4 separate regions of the Homo sapiens genome follow, and all the other regions are linked to region 4. The links come from fine-mapping of genetic effects on gene expression. A gene starts in region 4. Each other region holds a variant in brackets. All regions are shown on one strand. Distances are from middle to middle. Region 1 overlaps LOC124904019 (a long non-coding RNA gene). Region 2 overlaps CDK5RAP3 (CDK5 regulatory subunit associated protein 3). Region 3 overlaps SKAP1 (src kinase associated phosphoprotein 1). Region 4 holds the start of HOXB-AS1 (HOXB cluster antisense RNA 1).

The links.
Region 1: its variant is fine-mapped to the expression of HOXB-AS1 in whole blood (INTERVAL, PIP above 0.99).
Region 2: its variant is fine-mapped to the expression of HOXB-AS1 in whole blood (INTERVAL, PIP 0.98).
Region 3: its variant is fine-mapped to the expression of HOXB-AS1 in whole blood (INTERVAL, PIP above 0.99).

What each region holds. Positions count from the first base shown.
Region 1 is chr17:48,483,453-48,488,948 of GRCh38, forward strand. It overlaps LOC124904019 (a long non-coding RNA gene), which reads right to left. Exons shown (of 2, transcript XR_007065828.1): 1 at 5,433-5,496; 2 at 3,480-3,654. Among named protein-coding and RNA genes, the nearest start is that of HOXB1, 45 kb to the right of the region's middle. RefSeq lists an enhancer at 1-858. The variant C/A (reference allele first, on the strand shown) is at 2,943.
Region 2 is chr17:47,973,864-47,978,863 of GRCh38, forward strand. CDK5RAP3 (CDK5 regulatory subunit associated protein 3) reads left to right here. Exons shown (of 14, transcript NM_176096.3): 4 at 68-168; 5 at 537-585; 6 at 1,296-1,474; 7 at 1,651-1,790; 8 at 2,006-2,150; 9 at 2,849-2,959; 10 at 3,969-4,047; 11 at 4,966-5,000. Among named protein-coding and RNA genes, the nearest start is that of CDK5RAP3, 5.3 kb to the left of the region's middle. RefSeq lists an enhancer at 1,536-2,036. The variant G/A (reference allele first, on the strand shown) is at 2,411.
Region 3 is chr17:48,389,582-48,395,165 of GRCh38, forward strand. All of the region lies in intron 2 of SKAP1 (src kinase associated phosphoprotein 1), which reads right to left. Among named protein-coding and RNA genes, the nearest start is that of SKAP1, 38 kb to the right of the region's middle. The variant A/C (reference allele first, on the strand shown) is at 2,489.
Region 4 is chr17:48,541,921-48,547,196 of GRCh38, forward strand. It overlaps HOXB-AS1 (HOXB cluster antisense RNA 1), which reads left to right and starts at 2,431. Exons shown (of 7, transcript NR_102279.1): 1 at 2,431-2,492; 2 at 3,201-3,437; 3 at 3,575-3,644. HOXB2 (homeobox B2) reads right to left here and starts at 3,189. Exons shown (of 2, transcript NM_002145.4): 1 at 2,601-3,189; 2 at 735-1,827. The coding sequence starts at 2,991. The coding sequence ends at 1,148. RefSeq lists a silencer at 1,315-1,604 and an enhancer at 1,412-2,057.

The DNA.
Region 1 (5,496 bases), 58 kb before region 4:
GGAGAGGTTGGGATCTTTCATCTCATGAAATAAGTAATCTATGTATCACTCAGACTCTGCTTGCCAATTCCCCTCCTGTTCCACTGATCCGCAGCCACATCCTGCTCCTCCCTCACATGGAAACAGGCAGCACCTAGGCCATCATCTGCTCAGACTTTCCTTCAGAGGAAAAGAGAAACCACAAACAGCTGCCGTGTGGGCCCTCCTGCCAGATTCCGGATTCCAGCTCAGACCACGGATCTCGATGACTTCATTGGTATCTGAGCTGGAACTCTCTTCTCCAGGGACAGAGAGGCCGCCAGCATCCCTGCAGAGCCCCCAGAAAAAGAGGAAGCTGCATGGTGGGTTCACACCTGGGCCAGTACAAAAAGGTCATGCTTGGAGAGATACACCAAGATCTCCACCTGAGGGCTGAGTCCTGGCCCAGGGCTTGCTTCACTAGTTGGCAGCCTGGGGTGAGTCCCTCTCCCCACCTCCACCCTGCCCCTTCAAAAAGCCTGTTGCTCATTGAATCAAAAGACATTCCTAAGTGAGAGTCTCATTCCCTTTCATCTGGATCCAAATGGAAATGCAAATACCATGGGACAGAATGTGCCTCTGTGGGAATGAATTTATCAGACCCTGTCCACAGCAGTTTTGCTGAAAGAGAAATTTAGTTTTTCTGAGAGAGCCTGGTGAGGCAATGGAGTTAAGGGGCCAAATGGTTCAAAACTTCTACAAGGTTAGTGCTGGAGGGGAAGCTTCAGCAATCATGAGCCAGACTCCTCCTGTTGCAGATGAGGAAACCAAAGCCCAGAGAGGAGTGTCTTTCACAGCATCATACAGCAAGTTAATATGGCTTAGGATGCTAGAACTTAGGTGTCCCGACTCTAAGCCTGGTGCCAGTTGCAGAAAACAAAAGCCCAAGGCCTGAAAGATAAACTTGGCCTCCTTCAAAATCTGATGGGGGCTGGCACTTTCTGCCTTCAGAATATTTGTTTCCACCAGGAGTGAATCTCAGTTCTTGGCTGTGAGCAGTTGCAGAGGTCACATGAGTGGACAAAAAAGGAATGTGAGTGAGAAGGGAGATGGGGTGAAGATCTTCCTGAACAATGACTTAGCGAGGACAAGTCTGAATCTCCAACTTCATCAGACTCTGTGAACGGTGTTAAATCTTGACTTAGGGGCTATGGGCTTTTGCCTCTCTTTGTAGCCACAGTTGCCCAAAGAGAACTAGTAATGCTGTTATCTTCAGATGCAAAGGATAACACATTAGTAAATTATTCCTTGCTTATACTTCTAATGTCACATTCCCCTTGTCTTATAGTTGTTTTGTGATGAAAGAAACTAATGGGATCTTAGAATCAGACCTGGGTTACATGGCTTAAACTTTTTAAAAAAAATTTAATTGTGGTAAAATATGCATAACATAAAATTCACCATCTTAATGATTGTTAAGTGTATAGTTTAGCAGTGTTAAGTATATTGACGTTATATTGCAACCTTTTTTCATCTTGAACAACTGAAGCTGTACCCATTAAACAACGGTTCCTCATTCTCCATTCCCTTTCAGTCCCTGACAACCACCACTCTACTTTCCATCACCATGAATTTGATGACTCATGAGTGGAACCACACAGTATTTGTCCTTTTGTGAATCACTTATTTCACTTAGCATAATGTCCTCACAAGGTTCATTCATGTTGTAGCACATGTCAAAATTTCTTTCCTTTTTTTTTTTTTTTTTTTTTTGAGATGGAGTCTCATGCTCTTTCCCCCAGGCTGGAGTGCAGTGGCATGATCTGGGCTCATTGCAACCTCCGCCTCCTGGGTTCATGCCATTCTCCTGCCACAACCTCCCGAGTAGCTGGGACTACAGGTGTGCGCCACCACGCCCAGCTAATTTTTTGTATTTTTAGTAGAGACGGCGTTTCACCATGTTAGCCAGGATGGTCTCGATCTCCTGACCTCATGATCTGCCTGCCTCGGCCTCCCAAAGTGCTGGGATTACAGGCGTGAGCCACCATGCCCGGCCTTCAATTTCTTTCCTTTTTAAGGCTGAATAATATTCCATTTTATGGATATGCCACATTTTGTTTATCTATTTATCCACTGATGGACACTTGGGTTGCTTCCACTTTTTGGCCATTGTGAATAATGCTGCTATGAACATGGGTGTACAGATATCTTTTTGAGACCCTGACTTCCTCAATTCTTTTGGATATATATCCAGAAGTAGAACTGGTGAATCCTATGGTAGTTCTATTATCAAGTTTTGGAAGAATAACCATACTGTTGGCTTAAACTTATTGGGCTTTTATTTTCCTCATCTATAAAGTAGACTTGAGGTTGTTGTGAGTATTAAAGAAATCATGTGCATAAAGCTCTTGGCTCAATGCCTGGTACATGGTTGAAATTTAAGAACTGGTTGTTTCCTATGAACTCTTGAAGACAGAGACTGTTTCATTTCGGTATCTAACCATTTAGCATGGCGCCAGACATATAGTAGGGGTTCACTATATGACTGTTAGTGAATGAATGAATAATGAACAAACATATCCTTGTAACTTTGAAGTATGGCCGGGAGCAGTGGCTCATGCCTGTAATCCCAGTACTTTGGGAGGCTAAGGCAGGCGGATCACCTTAGGTCAAGAGTTCGAGGCCTGGCCAACATGGCGAAACCCTGTCTCTACCAAAAATACAAAAATTAGCTGGGCATGGTGGCAGGCACCTGTAATCCCAGCTACTTGGGAAGCTGAGGGAGGAGAATCACTTGAACCTGGGAGGCAGAGGTTGCAATGAGCCGAGATCGTGCCATTGCACTCCAGCCTGGGAGACAAGAGCGAGACTCCATCTCAAAAAAAAAAAACAAAAAAAACCTTTGAAGTACATAGAATAATTCCTGCACATTGTGGGTGTTTAATAAATTTCAAATGAATGCATGTAATAATCCTATATGAAGC[C/A]TACTTCTTCTGCATCCTACTTCATGAGAAAAGGAATTTGCTCATGTCCCTAAAGTTCCTGAAGGACAATTCAGAATCAAGTATTTGACCTACTCCCAACTTTCTGGGGATCCTCCTCTTTCACCATTCATGGCAAATTCTACTGTGCAAGGGATACAAAGGAGGAAGATCTCCATGTGAGAGTAACCGAGCACTTCAGTCTGCACTGTGCTTGCTAAGTTTTCTCTCTTTCTACCATGTTCACAGAACACTTGCTGTGAGCTCCAAAGCATGTTGAAGAGCGGGGCTGTCCATGTTGAATCCTGTTAGTCATGCAGCTGAGGGAATTCCAATCACCTGACCCGGGTCTGACCGCAGTTACCAGTCTCAAGTCTGAGCAGCGTCTCCAGTGCTGGGCTGCCTTCTTGACTCCAGGAGGCATGCCTGCTCTTACAATGAAACTCAAGTCTTTTTTTTTCCTTCCCACAAGTTTGGCTTCTACTTTTCTAAGTGCTGTTCATCATATACTCTGTGTTGTAAGTACTCAGCTCTCTAGCATCTCTTTATACTACCTTTTATTCTTCTGGAATATCCTTCCTTCCCACCCACAAGCATATTAGGCAAAACTTGCCCACCGTGGTAACTGGAAACAGGACTGAGGGGAAGGAAAACTCTCTCCCAGGTGCATGGAGTGGGAACTCATTTAGGGCATCTTTAGTGCCATACATAGAACCTGGAATACAATAGGAGCTCAATTAATACATGTTAAATGGATAAATATTGGTTAAATGCATCATGTTTCTATACAATTCTCTTTAAACTATAAACTCCCCAAGCACAAAGTTAAGAACTATGTCTCTCTTATCAGACAAGATGCCTCCTAACCCAGATTATACAGGAGCATTGTGAGGGCAAGCCCATGCCAACTCCACATTCTGTGAGCTCCCAAAACTCCACCAAGGACCTTGCTTAATGATGACTTAGACCAGGGTTTCTCGACCTCAGCATTATTGACATTCTGGGCCAGATCCTTCTCTGATGTAGGGAGCTGACTGGTGCATTGTAAGATGTTCAGGGACATCCCTGGCCTTTACCCACTAGATGCCCATAGCAACCCCCTCCCAGTTGTGACAACCAAAAATGCCTTCAGATAACAACAGATATCCCCTGTGTTTGGGGGAATGAAGAGGTACAAAATCACTCCCTGTTGAGAACTACTGACTTAGACTGAAGCAAAACACGAAGGGATTTCTCTACTTTTTATTGCCTGTGGGAATGGAAAATATTTTTCTAGCAGAGAAGTTGAATATTTATTAGATTAAGAATTGGGCCGGGCACAGTGGCTCATGCCTGTAATCCCAGCACTTTGGGAGGCCGAGGCGGGCAGATCACAAGGTCAGGAGATCAAGACCATCCTGGCTAACACAGTGAAACCTCGTCTCTACTAAAAATACAAAAAATTAGCTGGGCGTGGTGGCGGGCACCTGTAGTCCCAGCTATTTGGGAGGCTGAGGCAGGAGAATGGCGTGAACCCAGGAGGCAGAGCTTGCAGTGAGCTGAGATCCGGCCACTGCACTCCAGCCTGGGCAACAGAGAGAGACTCCGTCTCAAAAAAAAAAAAAAAAATTGGGCCAGGCGCAGTGGCTCACACATGTAATCCCAGCACTTTGGGAGGCCGAAGCCGGCGGATCACAAGGTCAGGAGTTCGAGACCTGCCTGGCCAAAATGGTGAAATCCCGTTTTTACTAAACATGCAAAAATTAGCCAGGCATGGTGGCAGGTGCCTGTAGTTCCAGCTACTCAGGGGACTGAGGCAGGAAAATCACTTGAACCAGGAGGCAAAGGCTGCAGTGAGCCAAGATTGCGCCACTGCACTGCAGCCTGGGTGACAGAGTGAGACTCCATCTCCAAAAAAAAAAGAATTGATGAAAAATGTACTTCCAACTCCCAGGTGTTCTCAGAATTGAACCCGGGAGGACTCCAGGTGAGAAAATCTTTGCCAGGGACAAAATTTCCTTGTCTAACCATTGGAGTGCAGAACAGAGTGACAGAAGAGGGAAGTGCTAGAGGGTAAGGGCATGCCCCAACAGAAGTTACTGGAAACAGCAATTACTTTCCATTCCTTGGGACCTACTAGGGCTCTGAACCTGGATTCAAATACATAAAGGCCCACTATGGTTGGGGCCTACTTGCCTACTGAAATTGGAGTTTCAGAGACTGAGTGACCTTTCTGATATTGCACAGCACATCAGAGACAAAACCAGCACTTGAACTCCCTTTGAGTTAGACATCTGAAGGACAAGGGCATGTGGTGCATCCCCAGCTATCCAGTGCCTTTTCTTTTTTCTTTCCCAATCCAGTGACCCCTCTGATTGTAGGATAACAGACCAGACAGGCAAAAGGTATCTGTGGGTGATCTTTGCTTGGGGGTAGGGTTGGGTAGGGGGCAGAGCTGCTCACAACAGCAGGCCATTTCCCAAGATGCTCAGGGTTGCTGGCTTCTGCACTCACCATCTCACTTTCTGGTTGCTGCGTGGAGATAAGCTATCGACTTCTGCACAGGATCAACCAAGGA
Region 2 (5,000 bases), 570 kb before region 4:
ACCTGCAGTGCCCAGAGTAGGTGAAGAAGATACTTTAGTTCTCGAAATCCCGTCTCTTGCTTTCTAGACATTCACTACTTTCACTGCCTAAGAATCCTGGACCTTCTCAAAGGCACAGAGGCCTCCACGAAGAATATTTTTGGCCGATACTCTTCACAGCGGATGAAGGCAAGTGTGGGCCAAGGGCCGGTAGTATGTGGTTGGGGACATCCAATCCGAGGAGTCATAGCCTCTGTGGTCTCTCTGAGGCTCCAGTGGGGATGCCTACATAGAATATTTCCTGAACTTTCACTCTGTCTCTATAGTTTACTCCAAAAGTGGATCCTATCCCTGAGTTTAATTTTCAAACCCACTGCTTTAGGGATTGCCTGCACTCTTAAAGTGGGTGGTCCAGCCAGCAGAGTTGAAAGAAGGACAAGGAGTTTGTGTTTGATGTGATGTAAAGGCTGGGAGAACTTACCCTGTTTAGGGATTGAGCTGGGATGTGGCTGTCGAGTGCTTTTCTGGCTTAACATTGTTTTTCTGTTCTTACTCAGGATTGGCAGGAGATTATAGCTCTGTATGAGAAGGACAACACCTACTTAGGTAAAGTGGCCCGGCCTGGGAGCCCTGGTATCCATGGGGAAGCCCACTCTCAGAGTTCTGAGATACCAGGCTTATAGGAGGCACAGTCTGTGAGTGGGAAGAGACTGGAGTGTAGATGTTGCCCATTTGTAGGTGGTAAAATCAATTGTTTTTGATGGAATTGATTTTCCCTGAGTGGAGTGCTGGGGGAAGGAGGAGGTCCAGGCCGGTAGTGGCCATTCGCCGTGCCTCAGCGAGCAGGTGTGTGTGGGTCCTCCACCACTCACCTCTTGGTTAGCGGGAGTGTGCTGCCCCCACCCCCACCCCCGCACCCCCATTCTACACAAGGCAGAAGAGGCACGGGTTTTTCTGGGAGCGAATATCAAGTGCCTGAGAGCAACTACAGGACTAACTGTGTTTGGGTTGGGTGTAGTATAAATAATAATAATGGCTAATATTTCCTGAGCATCTACTAAATGCAAGGAATTGTGCTTGGTGTGTCATGTGGATTCTCTCTTGCATCTTCATGATAAATGTTATTGTCGCTGTTTTACCGATGAGGGTTGGATTAGAGGGGTTAAACAACTTGTCTTAGGCTCCACAGCTGGGAACAAGTGGGGCTGGGAAGCTGACTTCGTGCTCTTCACCACCACAAAGGATGTGTGTGCATCCTGGGGCATGCCTGCCTCATGTGGGGGTGTCCTGGGCTGAATTTCCTGGGCACTTCTCAGTGGAACTCTCTAGCCTCCTGGTTCGGAATGTCAACTATGAGATCCCCTCACTGAAGAAGCAGATTGCCAAGTGCCAGCAGCTGCAGCAAGAATACAGCCGCAAGGAGGAGGAGTGCCAGGCAGGGGCTGCCGAGATGCGGGAGCAGTTCTACCACTCCTGCAAGCAGTATGGCATCACGGTGAGCGGCGGCAGCCTCTTCGCAGCCAGAGGACACCTGGGCCCCTGCTTGTCTTCCTCTGACCCCGTCTGACCCCTCAGCCTGGTTGCACCCCCTTTGGGCCAGTGTCTTACTTTTCTTCGGTCTTTGGATGTTTTCTTCAATCTGTTGGACTCCACCTCTTCTCCCCTCTCTAGGGCGAAAATGTCCGAGGAGAACTGCTGGCCCTGGTGAAGGACCTGCCGAGTCAGCTGGCTGAGATTGGGGCAGCGGCTCAGCAGTCCCTGGGGGAAGCCATTGACGTGTACCAGGCGTCTGTGGGGTTTGTGTGTGAGAGGTAGAGAGGCCTCAGCTTCTCCTGGTGGGGGTGCTTTGCCTGTGTTCCCCAGCTCATGACCCTTCTCCAGTTGTCTTGTTCCCATATAACATTTGAACTCTTTACACACCTGAACCTGTGGGGGCCTTGCCCATTTGACCATGTGGCCCAGGCCAAAGCCCAGTGTTGGCCTTACGCATGGTCGGCAGGAGAGTCAGTTGTGTGCTCTGTTGAAGCCCCACAGAGCAGGTGTTGCCAATGCTGCGGTTCGTGCAGAAGCGGGGAAACTCAACGGTGTACGAGTGGAGGACAGGGACAGAGCCCTCTGTGGTGGAACGACCCCACCTCGAGGAGCTTCCTGAGCAGGTGGCAGAAGATGCGGTAAGATGGGCCTTGTGATGAGCTGTAGGAGTGGAGTGGGAGCTGCTTGTCCCCTCCCCACCCCCAACAGCCCAACCCAAGACCCAGAGAGAAGAAGGGAGGATTTCTGTGAGAGTGACTGTAGGTAGAAGGGCCCAGGAGGCCCTACTCCTTTATTTTTCTGAGTATAGGTGAGTGAGTGCCACAGAGGCTTTGCAAGGTGGTTCGCTTTGAACTCGGAACCTCCATCATGTGAGCTCTCTGAAGATGGGCTTTCTTTG[G/A]GGTAGCTTAGAGGCCACTGCATTTGAACAGTGTGCTCTCTACAGAAGCAGCTGAGGCCTGTGGGAAGGCAGCCCCACCCTCCTTTTTAAATTAATTTATTTTTGAGACTGGGCCTTGCTCTGTTGCCCAGGCTGGAGTGCAGTGGCATGATCCTTGCTGACTGCAACCTCTGCCTCTCAGCCTCAAGCGATCCTCCCAAGTCAGCCTCCAAGATAGCTGGGATTACAGGTTTGCACCACCACTCCTAGCTAATTTTTTATTAACATCTTTGTAGGGACAGGATTTTGCCATATTGCCCAGGCTGGTCTCAAACTCCTGGGCTCAAGCAATCCACTATCCTCGGCCTCCCAAAGTACTGGGGTTACAGACATGAGCCACCATGCCCGGCCCTTTTTAAATCCATCTTCCATGAGCTAACACTCTCTTTCCCTTTCCAGATTGACTGGGGCGACTTTGGGGTAGAGGCAGTGTCTGAGGGGACTGACTCTGGCATCTCTGCCGAGGCTGCTGGAATCGACTGGGGCATCTTCCCGGAATCAGATTCAAAGGTGAGGAGGCCTTCTCAGTCTGTCTCTCTCTGATCACTACTCTAACCATAAGAAAAGTGTCATTTGTGTCTGTAACGGCATCACTTGAAGTTCATAGCTCTAAGACCAGGTATAGTCCAAGGGAGGCAGAGTTTCACACGTCACATGTCAGAGTTTTGTTTTGTTTTTTGAGACAGAGTCTCATTCTGTCGCCCAGGCTGGAGTGCAGTGGTGCAATCTCGGCTCACTGCAACTTCCGCCTCCCAGGTTCAAGTGATTCTCCTGCCTCAGCCTCCCAAGTAGCTGTGATTATAGGCGCCCACCACCACACCCCTCTAATTTTTTATTTTGTTTGTTTGTTTGTTGAGACAGAGTCTCACTCTGTCGCCCAGGCTGGAGTGCAGTGGCATCATCTTGGCTCACTGCAACCTCTGCCTCCCGGGTTCACGCCATTCTCCTGCCTCAGCCTCCTGAGTAGCTGGGACTACAGGCGCCCGCCACCACGCCCGGCTAATTGTTTTGTATTTTTAGTAGAGATGGGGTTTCACCATGTTAGCCAGATGGTCTCGATCTCCTGACCTCGTGATCCGCCCGCCTCAGCCTCCCAAAGTGCTGGGATTACAGGCGTGAGCCACCGCGCCCGGCTAATTTTTGTATTTTTAATAGAGACAGGGTTTCGCCGTGTTGGCCATGCTGGTAACTCCTGACCTCAGGTGATCCACCTGCCTCGGCCTCCTGAGGTGCTGGGATTACAAGCGTGAGCCACTGCGCCCAGCCCATGTGAGAGTTAAATTTTGATGTCCTTTTTCTTGGTGTTTGGTACAGGGTGTAGGGGTAAAGGCAGGTGGGAACACTACAGAGCAGGGATGATGGGCCATACTGCCATTTTTGGCACCTAAGTCAGGGCTGCAAATCCTTAATAGAGTTGGAATGTGCAGCCATTGACCTCATCAAGGGCTTTGGTTTATTCTGGCTCCTTGGCTCAGGAAAATTCTCCCCCCATTGCTGTGGTTCTTTGCTCTCCTTCCAGGATCCTGGAGGTGATGGGATAGACTGGGGAGACGATGCTGTTGCTTTGCAGATCACAGTGCTGGAAGCAGGAACCCAGGGTAAGTGCACCATCCCCTGCAGCCCTGGCAAAAGTGGGGTGCTCAAGGGCCCCCACGTGTCTAGAAACAAAAAATGCAGCGCTAAGATGAGGCTTCTTGCACATTTAACTGTTTCTCAAAACCTTGATGAGGATGTGAGCTGAGGGGGACCAAGAGAGGTTTTTTTTTTTTTTTTGGAGACGGAGTTTCGCTCTTGTTGCCCAGGCTGGAGTGCAATGGCATGATCTCAGCTCGCTGCAACCTCCACCTCCTGGGTTCAAGCTATTCTCCTGCCTCAGCCTCCCGAGTAGCTGGGATTACAGGCATGCACCACCACGCACAGCTAATTTTATATTTTTTTAGTAGAGTTGGGGTTTCTCCATGTTGGTCAGGCTGGTCTCGAACTCTTGACCTCAGGTGATCCACCTGCCTCGGCCTCCCAAATGCTGGGATTATAGGTGTGAGCCACCGTGCCTGGCCCAAGAGAGGTTCTTAAAAGTTGAGAGTTTAGAAACTCTCAACTTTTTAGAGACCACATGTGGGCCAGCTGTTATGGTAGGAGGGCTCTAGGGGGATCGGGGCCCTGGAGTGTGACATGACCCCCGCCCCAACAGCAGAGAAGACGTAGTGGTGTCTGAGCCACTAGAGGGCGGTGCAGGATGAAACTTTACCTCCTGCGGTCCACCAGAGCAGAGAGCCGGCCTTTCTACCCCTCTGAACCCAGCTCTGGTCCTCCTCTCAGTCTGGGAGTTGGAAAGTGGTACCTGATTAGAGCTGAGACACCTGGGACAAGGTAGCCTTCCCCCTTGGATTAGAACAAGAAGTGGCTTTAGCACAGTGAGTCTGTCCGTATTAATCCTCCAGGGCTTCTCACACTTGAGGGTCTTTTCCTTCTCCAGTCCTCTGATCCTTTATCACTTCTCTGTCTCTTCCTGGCAGCTCCAGAAGGTGTTGCCAGGGGCCCAGATGCCCTG
Region 3 (5,584 bases), 150 kb before region 4:
GTCTAGCACTCGAGAAGTTCCTGTGGGATTGATTTTTTTCCCATCTTCTCTGAGCCCTTTGCTGAGTGTGATAAGCAGGACTGCATTTCATTATCAACCCTGCTAGCACTGTACTTCAGGGAGACTAGAGGAGGCTACACACTAGGAGAGAAGATCCAGAATCCAAAGAAGAAATGATTCACATGGTGTGATTATAAAAACCCACTTTATGCTCAACTCATTTTCAACAGAATCATGAAATAAAATAAAATCCCAAGAAATGAAATTTCCTGCATCACATTCCAAATTTTTTAAAAAGTCATGGGGGTACCATAAAAGAAATCAAATAGAAGTTTTAAGGTTTGGTTGGTAATGTGTGCATTTTTGGAACATTTATTTAAAAAAATAATTCCAAACAACATTTTGGGTAAGCAACCTAAAAAGAAAACATAAGATTATCATTAGGGGAATCTTCAAGTGACTCAGTGTTACAGAAGTAACATCAGAACAAAGGGCTTGGCTCCTGACACTTGGCCCAGTGCTCTTGCATTTCCCTCCCCTCTGTTCCAGTTTCCCTGTAACACAGAAAGTGGATACAGGCTGGGTCCATATCAGAAACAAGAGAAAACATGCAAATTAGAGAAAACCATCATCAGTAAGGTCCCAAGCCACAGGTTCCTGGAATCCACAAACAGATAAATACAGAGAGGCCTTTTTCATTGGCTTTCCTTAAACAGAGAAAATAGCATAGCTCTGGGACAAAAGGCTAGCTCCAGATCAAATGAGACTTAAAATCAAAGCCAAAGCAAATGGTGATAAAAATGAAGGCAGTAATTTCATACAGATGATCTTTTCACACAATGTATGAATTAAGTCCATCTACAGACAGTGAGGCTTCACGTATTAAAAAAAAAGGACACAGGATTTTCTGAAACCAAGACAAATCCATATTGAGTAGCTAATAGGAATGTGCCCAAGTGATAACGATGGCTAAAATTCTATCAGGAGTAAAGCAAATTTCAGTGACCTAACTATACAGTTAAAGAGTACGGCTCAGCTTATTATTCTAATGGGTTAGTCAGACTGTAAGGGTGCAAGTTCAGTTACCTGCCTGTGTTCTAGCTCACAATCCCAAACTCCTTTTCACTCTTGATTGAGGAGCTCAGTACTGGGAAGAATTATACATGATCTAGTTTTGCAAGTGATCTAAAAACTCTCTTAAAAATACATTGTCCTAGGTGCGGTGGCTCACGCCTGTAATCCCAGCACTTTGGGAGGCCAAGGTGGGTGGACTGCTTGAGGCCAGGAGTTCAAGATCAGCCTGGCCAACATGGTGAAACCCCGTCTTCACTAAAAATACAAAAATTAGCCAGGTATGGTGGTGCACGCCTGTAGTCCCAGCTACTCGGGTGGCTGAGGCACAAGAATTGCTTGAATTTGCGGAGGTTGCAGTGAGCCAAGATCATGCCACTGCACTCCAGTCTGGGTGACAGAATGAGACTCTGTCTCAAAAAAACAAAAAACTAACTAACTAACAACAACAACAACAACATCAAAAACATTTTTCTGAACTTCAATCTAAAATCTTAAAGATATAAAATGAAAATATAAAAGGTATGGTTTATTCTGAACCACCAAGGACTATGGTCATTATTACATTAAAAAATGTTATTTAAGAAAAATTGTTCTACTTCCAGATAGCCTCACATATGAAAGAATAAACAAAATAATCATTATGATAAAATTATAAGGAGAGTTATACATTTCAAAGCTATTTTGAAAGGACAGAGACTTGCCATAAAAAACACATAAGATGATCTTCCTTACCAGGTCTTAAAAGTTAAGCCAAGAGATCAACAGTAAGTAATATTCTATCTTTCTCACCTGTAGGGCATTCCAGATTAAAACAGCAATAAATACAACCTCTCATTCCTAGAGAAGTAGATTCACAAAACTCTTTAACTCAGTTGTGAAATCTCAACATTCATCCACTGAATAACAGAGAACTAAGCAAAAATTTGACTGATATAACTGATGAGTTGAGTAATAATGTTGAAGTTGTTGTGGGTTTGTTTTTTCTTCCTTTAAGGATGGGAGGGAGGGATAAGACTGAAAAAGGAAGAAATGAGTTATTAACCTTCCAGATGTGGTCAAATTATTGCTATGACTTTTGAGCCTTTTCAGAGCTATTTAAACTTAGACGGATCATTCAACTACCTCTTCCTTTTTTTTTTTTTTTTTTTCTGCATTGGCACTGAAGCTCCAGTACAAGTAGCAAAATTAAAAAACAGAAAAAGATGTTATGAGTAAATCTTGAAACTTGTGAATAACATAAATGTATTAATAGCACATTATACATTAGTTCTTTTGATAAGCATACTTCATTTGAATGTGTTTTGTTTTGGGGATTTTTAAGCTCAATAATTAACATTTAAGAAAAGTAAAACTCTCTATATAATTAATGGTAATTATATTTACAGTATACTACTTCAAAACTCTTGCTCCCAAG[A/C]GTTTTATCAGGCTAACTCCTTGTCTTTCTTCCTATAATACAAAAATATCAGAATTATACATTCTTAAGCTAAATCTTGTTTTAAAGCTAAATCCACGTTAAGCTGAAAAGAAAACATGAAATTCCCAAAGAAAGTCAGAATTATTTTTATGAGATTTTACTAGTATATCATGTTTCACACAGAGCTATAGGTTAGCCACCCACAAATGAGACACGTTCAAGATATTCTTTCAGCCTGTAGTTTAAATGTCCTGAGTTTTGTGCCATAACCCTGTTACACAAAATGTATTTCTTTATTTCTTTCCATCTCAATATGATATAAATCTACTGGTCTCTTTTTGGAACTCCTTCAGCATTACTAAGTTTCACAGAAGGAAACAATACTCCAAGTTTGCTTCCATTGGCTCTGTCCTTCACTTCCAACAGGGAGCATAAATGACTACTTATCCAAGAAGGGCCATTGAGAGAGAAATTAAGCCATATCTCAATAATAAAAATATTCTATTTTTGGCTGGGCGTGGTAGCTCACTCCTGTAATCCTAGCACTTTGGGAGGCCAAGGTGAGTGGATCACCTGAGGTCAGGAGAGACCAGCCTGGCCAACATGGTAAAACCCCATCTCTACCAAAAATACAAAAACCTTTAGCCAGGTGTGGTGGCTCATGCCTGTAATCCCAGCTACTTGGGAGGCTGAGGCACAAGAATCGCCAGAACCTGGGAGGTGGAGGTTGCAATGAACCAAGATCGCACCACTGCACTCTAGCCTGGGCAACAGAGACTCGGTCTCAAAAAAAATATATATATATATATTTTTTTTTTCTTTACCCCTCCCCCACTCTCAACGTATTCTTGCAGTCAGATGGCCTCCACTGAATCAAACATTTAAAAAATGCTCTACTGTTTCTCCCAATGCGTTAGAATGCCATCAAGTGTCTGAGCACAGATCACAACTGCTTCATTCCAGGTGTCTCACATCTGGTGCTAATCCTGCAGTGACCATCGTAATAAAGCAGGAAGTGCCTTTGCCTGGCTTTCATACTAGCCACTCTCCAAAGGGCTCAATGAAAACTTAGACTTGGAATGTGAAAGCTGTTTAGTTTTTAAGAAAAGCAATGAAAATCACAGCTTAGGACAACAAATACCACAATAGGGCTTCATTTCCTTGGAATCACAGAAATTGCTATCCGTTTTTATTTTGTGTTACATGGAAAATATTAGCCTTCATTGGTAACACTTTCAAACAAAAAGAAAAGAGTATGTAAATATAGATAGGATTTTATTTTTTGTTTCTAAGTCTAAAAAAAGATAGCTATTTTTTGTTTCTAAGTCTAAAAACAGAATAGCTAAAGTGATTTGTACTGAAAAACATGAGCACTTGGAGAACACCCAGGATTCTTGACACAATTGTCTTTTCCTGTGGTCATTCACTCTAGACAACAAAAAATAGCAAAAAGCACATTATAATAGCTGTGATAGAGTCAGATGCTTCCATTTACAGCAAGTCCACAACCATGGCAAATACCAGTGAATGCCAAGCCAGCCATAAAAATAAGAGCTAAGCCCCTAAAGTTTACCAAGAATCACAGACAGTGCTACTTTTATTTCTCTCCACCCTTTTGTTTCTAGAGCAATACACGTTGAGGAAAGAATTAAAGGAAGCAAGGAAACAACAAAGAGACTAGGAAGTTGTAAAATATATATATATGTGTGTGTAAATATATAATTTACATTTATCTAGTAGTGGCTTTTCCAGATTATCTTGCTAGAGATTTATCTACCTTCCAAATAAGACTTGAAGTGCTAAATTATAGTTTTAGATAGGTTACCACCCCCCCCAAATTTATCAAACTCCTAAAATATTATTGTTTTAATCTGACTAAAAATAGGCCAGGCACAGAGACTCAGGCCTGTAATCTCAGCATTTTGGGAAGCCAAGACAGGAGAACTGCTTGAGTGCAAGAGTTCCAGACCAGCCTGGGCAACACAGTGACACCCTGTCTCTACAAAAAGTAAAAAATTAGCCAGGCATGGTGATGTGCAGCTACTCAGGAGGCTGAGGTCGGGGGATCGCTTGAGCCCAGGAGGTCGAGGCTGCAGCAAGCTGTGATTGTGCCACTGCACTCCAGCCTGGGCCACAGAGTGAGACTCTGTCTAAAAAAGCGAAAAACAAACAAACAAAAAAATGACTAAAAAGAAACCCTTTTAAATGATCTTCATTAATTTTAATTATTTTTGTGTTACTGTATGGTTCATGTATTTGCCGTATGTTTATTTTTTACTCTTTTTTTTTTGAGACAGAGTCTCACTTGGTCGCCCAGGCTGAAGTGCAATGTAATGATCATGGCCCACTGCAGCCTCAACCTGCTAGGCTCAAGTGATCCTCCTACCTCAGCCTCCCAAATGGCTGGGACCACAGGCATATACCACCACACCTGGCTAACTTTTTATTTTTTGTAGAGAGAGAGTTTTGTTATGTTGCCCAGGCTGGTCTCAAACTCCTGGCCTCAAGCGATCTTCTGGCCTCAGCCTCCCAAAGTGCTGGGATTATAGGAGTAAGCCACTGCGTTTAGCCTGCCATACATGTTTAACTCTCAAGTTTGATGACTTCTAAATTTCTTTTTATGCCAAGCTTTTTGGGGGACATATAACTGCCACACAACATAAGTAAATGTGGCAGCTATAAATGGCACAATAGAGGTGATATGGCTGAAGAAGAGGATTCAGGAAAACAAGGGTTACATTAACAGAATGATGATTGAATGGGTGGATGTAAGGCAATTTCAAACAGCTTGCCAAAGGAAAGCCTCGTTTTTCTATTTTCTTGTACAGTATCTAATTTCTGGCTCCTCATTTCCTCAGTGATCTGATAATTATGAAATTCTAAATAAAGTGTCATCTTTCTTGCAACAAGTCAATGAACAGAAAGCTCCCATCAACAATGCAGATATTTCCTAAAGTTCCCGCTGATGATTTCCTGAATGTCTACCCCACAAACCACACACAAAGTTCTTTGAGAACAAGAATTTGAGAACAAGAAACTGACTCTATCCCATGACAAATTCAGCTTGCGTGTGTGTTCATGCATGTGTGTGCATGT
Region 4 (5,276 bases):
ACGCTGCCGGGCCACCCTGGGCTTCTCGCCCGGCTGCTGCTTGGATGGTCTCCCAAACCCCAGCAGCCCGAGTCCATGGGTGTCCCGGCAGCGCCACATTTCTCAGCTGGCCTCTTTTCTTGCCCACTGGGAAGCCAGTTACCATCCCTGGGTGCGGGACCCTGCTTCCCGAGAAAATCCCCGACCCCACTCCACTCCTTGGAGAGCCACCTACAGCTCCCAAAGAGGCCCGGCTCAAGCCCCAGGCCTCGCGTCCCTAGGCTTCTTGAGTTCGGAAAAAGGTCCTACACCGGCTTCGGTCATAAGAAGCAAAAGCCTAGGAAGCCCTTGGATTGTTCCCAATTCCAGTAAACTTCTGCCCCCGCCACGACCCTGAAGACTGTCCACAGGCTTCCTCTCCTTTCACCCTCCTCTGTTCGCTGTACACTCTCTCCCTCGACCTGCCCATCTCTATTTCCAAGCAGAGGCCCCAGAACCACCCGCTCAGGACCAAAGACCCTCTGCTGAGGGGCGGGGAGGTGACCCAGCTTCCTGCAAACTCCCGACTTTTGCCGGAGCCGTGGGCGAAGCGGCCATCAATCGGGTCACCTTTGTACCACCCGGACTTCGCCGGCCCTGGAGGCTTTGCTGCCATATGGGCCGCTGAACCTAATCAACTTCGCACAGGTCCTGGAGGGGTGAGGACCGGCCTTGGGGCCGCGGGGAAAGAGTTTAGGTCCCAACACAAACACTCGTTTTGGTATTATAAAGACATTTATTTAATCTATGAAAATAATGTACAATAAATACTTTCCCCTTTTCCTATTATTAAAGAATTTTAATAAATAATCTACAGTCTAAAACATAAAAAAGAGGAAAATAGGTCCCTCTAGTTATTTTTAAGAAAGTCCCCCTAGAGTTTAATTATTCCTGAGATTTCATTGGAAGGAGTCTACCAAACGGAATTTTTCTGTGTGAATTTTAAAAGATAACCGAGTGCCCAATATTTTAGAAGAAGAAGAAAGGGAGTGGATTAAACGCTAATTCAGTAATACCTGAATTTTAGCAAAACACATAAGTCTATGCGACTGAGGGTGGGAGAGGCTCGATTTTTCCAGTAGACGGCCAAGGAGCGCGGGGGTCGAAAGGACCGGGAGGAGGAAACAGGTTAGGGAAACTGCAGGTCGATGGCACAGAGCGTACTGGTGAAAAAATCCAGCTCTTCCTCGGAAAAAGGGACCGGGCTGTCGAGAGAACCCTGTAGGCTAGGGGAGAGGCCTCCGGATAGCTGGAGACAGGAGTCGGCCGCGAAGAAGTTGAGGTCGGGAAGGAAAGGTGAATCCTGGCGCCCCGAGAAGACGTCTTCTGGCAATGGCCCGGGCTCCAGCCCGCCGGCCCCGCGCAGCGCGCAGCCGGGACTCGACGCGCCTGCGCCCTCTAAGCGAACGGCTAAAGGCCGGGGGTCCGCGCTTAAGGCCCCCGGCACCACCTCCGGCGGGTGACAGCAGGCTTCCCACGCCGCCCGCGAGGCGGAGGGGCCGCCCGGGCTGGCCGCGGGTTCCTCGGCAGGGTCGCAGATGTCCTCCAGGGCTCCCGGGCAGGCAGGCTCCCCATCCGGCGGCTCTCGGTGCTGCGTCTGCCGCTTGTGCTTCATGCGCCGGTTCTGAAACCAGACTTTGACCTGCCTTTCGGTGAGGTCCAGCAAGGCCGCGATCTCGACGCGGCGTGGCCGGCACAGGTACTTATTAAAGTGGAATTCCTTCTCCAGTTCCAGCAGCTGCGTGTTGGTGTAAGCCGTGCGCAGCCTGCGCGCCCCGCCGCCACCAGCCTCCGGCAGTCCCAGGCCATCTGCAGGGAAAACAGGCTCGGCGTCATAGCGGGCCGTGTACTCAGCCCAACCTCAGTTCGGACTACCCCATCCTCCAAAACCAGTATCACCTCTCCCCTTCCTCGCCACCCCACCCCCGCCCCCACCCCAAAGCCGCTCGCTTTACTGCTTTTGGGTTTTCTTCTCTCCCTCTCTAGTCTACAGCCCCGGCCCGGGTCAGGGCAAAGCATTCAGAGCCGCCCACGGGCCACGCAGGGGGCGGAGAGCGGCTCCCTTCGGCGCCGGAACCTCAGATCCCCCTCCCAAGCCCTCCCAGTGGACCCCTCAATTCGGAACTTTCCAACTCAACCGGAGCGAGGGTCAGAAAGATTGTTCTTCACCCCTCTTCCTCCCTAGCTCTGAATTCTTCCTCTTCTCCTAGAGTTGGGGCAGAAAGGACCGAATCTTTTCTGCTTCTAGGGTCTATCCCAGCAACAACATACTCATTCCCCTACACAGATACGGGTGAAAACCTCAATCAAATCATTTTCTTCTAGCAGAAAAAAAGGCGTTTCCCCAACCAGCTTCCAAAATCAGCCATAGGGAGAGAAAGAGAGAGAGAGACAGAAAAAAAAAAAGACGCTGTTAGCGGCCAGGCCTGAACCCCAGTGGGATATTCTACTTCCCCATCCCAGGAATGGAGGGGGTAAGGAACCCCAACAGGCTCGCCACCATTTTTTTTAAACCTCCTTCCACTGCTTTTTCTCCCCCTCTTCTAGCTGCCCCTCACCCCACCCCCACCACGCTTACCGACCTGCAGGCGATCCGACCCCGGAGGCCGGAACGGCGGAGGCGGCCGGAGAAGGAGACGTGGCGGATTGGCTGGGTTTCTTGGCGGATTTCTTCTCTTTCATCCAAGGGAACTCGGGGGCCGGGGGGGCAGCGGGGAGTGGCGGCGGCGGTGGCGGCGGCAGAGCAGGCCCATCTTCGGCTCGCTTTTGGCTCCTGGGTCTCTGAAGGGTGGAGGCGCCGGGCTGGAGGCTGGGGAAGGTTTGCTCGAAAGGAGGAGGAGGAGGAATTAATGTCGACTCCTTGATTGATGAAGTTTGAAATGTCTCCAAGACAGCGGGGAAGGAAGTCAGACACTCGGCGAGCGACGGCTGGCTGTTTATAAACCCAATCTCCCTCTCAAATTCAAAATTCATGGCTTTCAATGGTGGGGGAGGGGGCTGCTGGGGGGGGCGTCAGGAGGGAGGATCGGAAGGGACCCCCCTCCTGCACCCCCCCCGATTTATGTAATGGAGCGATTTTGGGAGGGGGAGATTTCGGTCTCTCTTTTTTTTAATTTTGGGCCTTTATAATTGTATATTGCTGATAAATACAAGCGTATGGGGACTCTCTCTATTAAACCCAGGACTCCAGCGAAATTACAGGGAATTCGTGGTCACGGGACCGGCCTCCGCCAATCGCTCGTCTGGGCCTGGTGGAAAACAGAGAGCATTATTTGGTTTAATTGATTCAAAAACACCAGAGGACCACGACCAGGACACCATGAGCCCCCATTCCTACACCAGTGCCTCACATGCTCTCTCCCCAATGCCTCCGTTTCTCCAGAAAAGCTAGAGGAACCTTTTCCTCATCCCCTTCGAAGGTTAGAAGGTTTCAGAAGCCTGGAAAAGAAGAGACTCTAAGGGAGAAACCTTCCTCTTTTCCAAGTATTTTAATAGAGTAAATTAAGGCCTTCTTTACGTGGCCAGCAGCATCCCCTTCCCTTCTCCCCTTCCCCAGGAAAAGATGAGTGAGGATCTCCGCGTTGGAGGAAGAGGGAGTCGAAAGAGGCTTCCACTCTTTGAAAAAGGTCAGTATTAAGGTGAAAATAAGAAAGAGATTTACAATCATCACACCACTATCCCTGTTACCCTCCAAAAACAACAGTTAAATCTTGGGAAATGGACAGGAACTCCCAGGCAGACACATAGGAGTGAGATGGAGCATAAGGGGCATTTTTGGGCCTCTGGCCTCCATCGCTGTATGGTCTGGGTTCTCTTCTCTGCCCAGTGTTTGCAGCACTGCCTCTGCCCCTTATGTACCCCTGCTTTCCTCACTTTCAGGCTTCCATGCTTCTCTGTGACATCCCCCAAAAACAGGCAGAGTCTAAGATGTGCATGTACCCACTCAAGCCTCAAGCTTGTATCTGTATCCATATCCAGGGACATGAACAAGAACTGAGGTAGCCATTGGTTTAACTTAGAGCACTCTCAAAGTTCAGATCAGCGTTATGTGTGTGCATGAGTGTGGTGGGGAGATTTTCCCCTAGGACAAAGAGACTTTCCCTCCCATTTTTGCCATTGTGCTAGTTAAAAAAGAAAAAAGAAAAAAAAAAAAAAAAGAATCCCTGACAAGGAAGAATTCCCTGAAGATGGTAGGGGTGGAAATAATGACCACTGAGATGATATTCCATTTCTGGCTGCTGGGGGAAAATGTTTTTAAAATTTATTTTATTTTGAGGAGACCAAGATAGTCTGAAGTTTAGAGTGTTGTAATTTACTATGGGGAGAGGGCACAAGACTCTGAGCCCCAAGCAATTGGTGGGAAACTAGGCCTCAAAGCAGAAAATGAAAAGTCGATCTGGGGGAAGATTTTTAAATAAGTGGGTCAGACGGATGGAGAGGAGATGAGGCGATCAATCTTAGCCCCCTGACAGCTCCCTCCGATTGCATCAAAGAATTTGGCTCTTTGGGAAAGCAGAGCGAACAGCCAAAATTTCACATCCCTTAAAAAGGCCTGGGGGTGGGGGTGGGGGTGCAAAAGAGAAGGGTGATTCTGGGAGAGCTGGGAAACAGATGGGAAATGGGGACAGAGGGAAAGCGCTAAGTTGGGTGGAAAGTTTGCCTGGAGAACTCCCATGGCTTTGGCCTCCCCTCCCCCTCCTCTCTCTCTGCTGCCCAGCCAGGAGGAGAAGGCTGGTTAGCAGAGAAATGGCAACTGAGCCCGGAGCTGGAACTAGAAACTTTCTGTCAGTGTAACATCTGCGTGAGTACTTAAAAAGAAGGACAGAGAAGTCTGAGTAGAAGCATGAGGGTGGGGGAGAGGAGGATGGAGAAAGGGGAGTTGGAGGTGGGGGCTGCAGGGACCGAGGAGGCATGCTCTGGAGGGCTCAGAACAGAGAGAGCTGCTCTGACCTGGGCAAAGTGGCCAGCGACAGTAGTGTGCAACTAGGCTCCAAAGAAAACAATTTTTGCCATTTAGAGGTGTGGATGGGGGTGGGCATAGAATAATCCAAATAGTAGCTGTCTGGAAGTCATGCAGGGAGGCCTGAGAGTGGGTTCTCCCTCTGGCCACCCCCTTGAACACCTCTGAAAGTTTAGCAACAGCTTCTGTAGCTGGCTGAAGGATCCAGAGCTTATCTCAGGCAACTCGGGCAGACTGTCCCTGCAGGAAATACAGCTCTCTCTAACCCTCACTGACAGATTTTATGGCCAGATTAGCA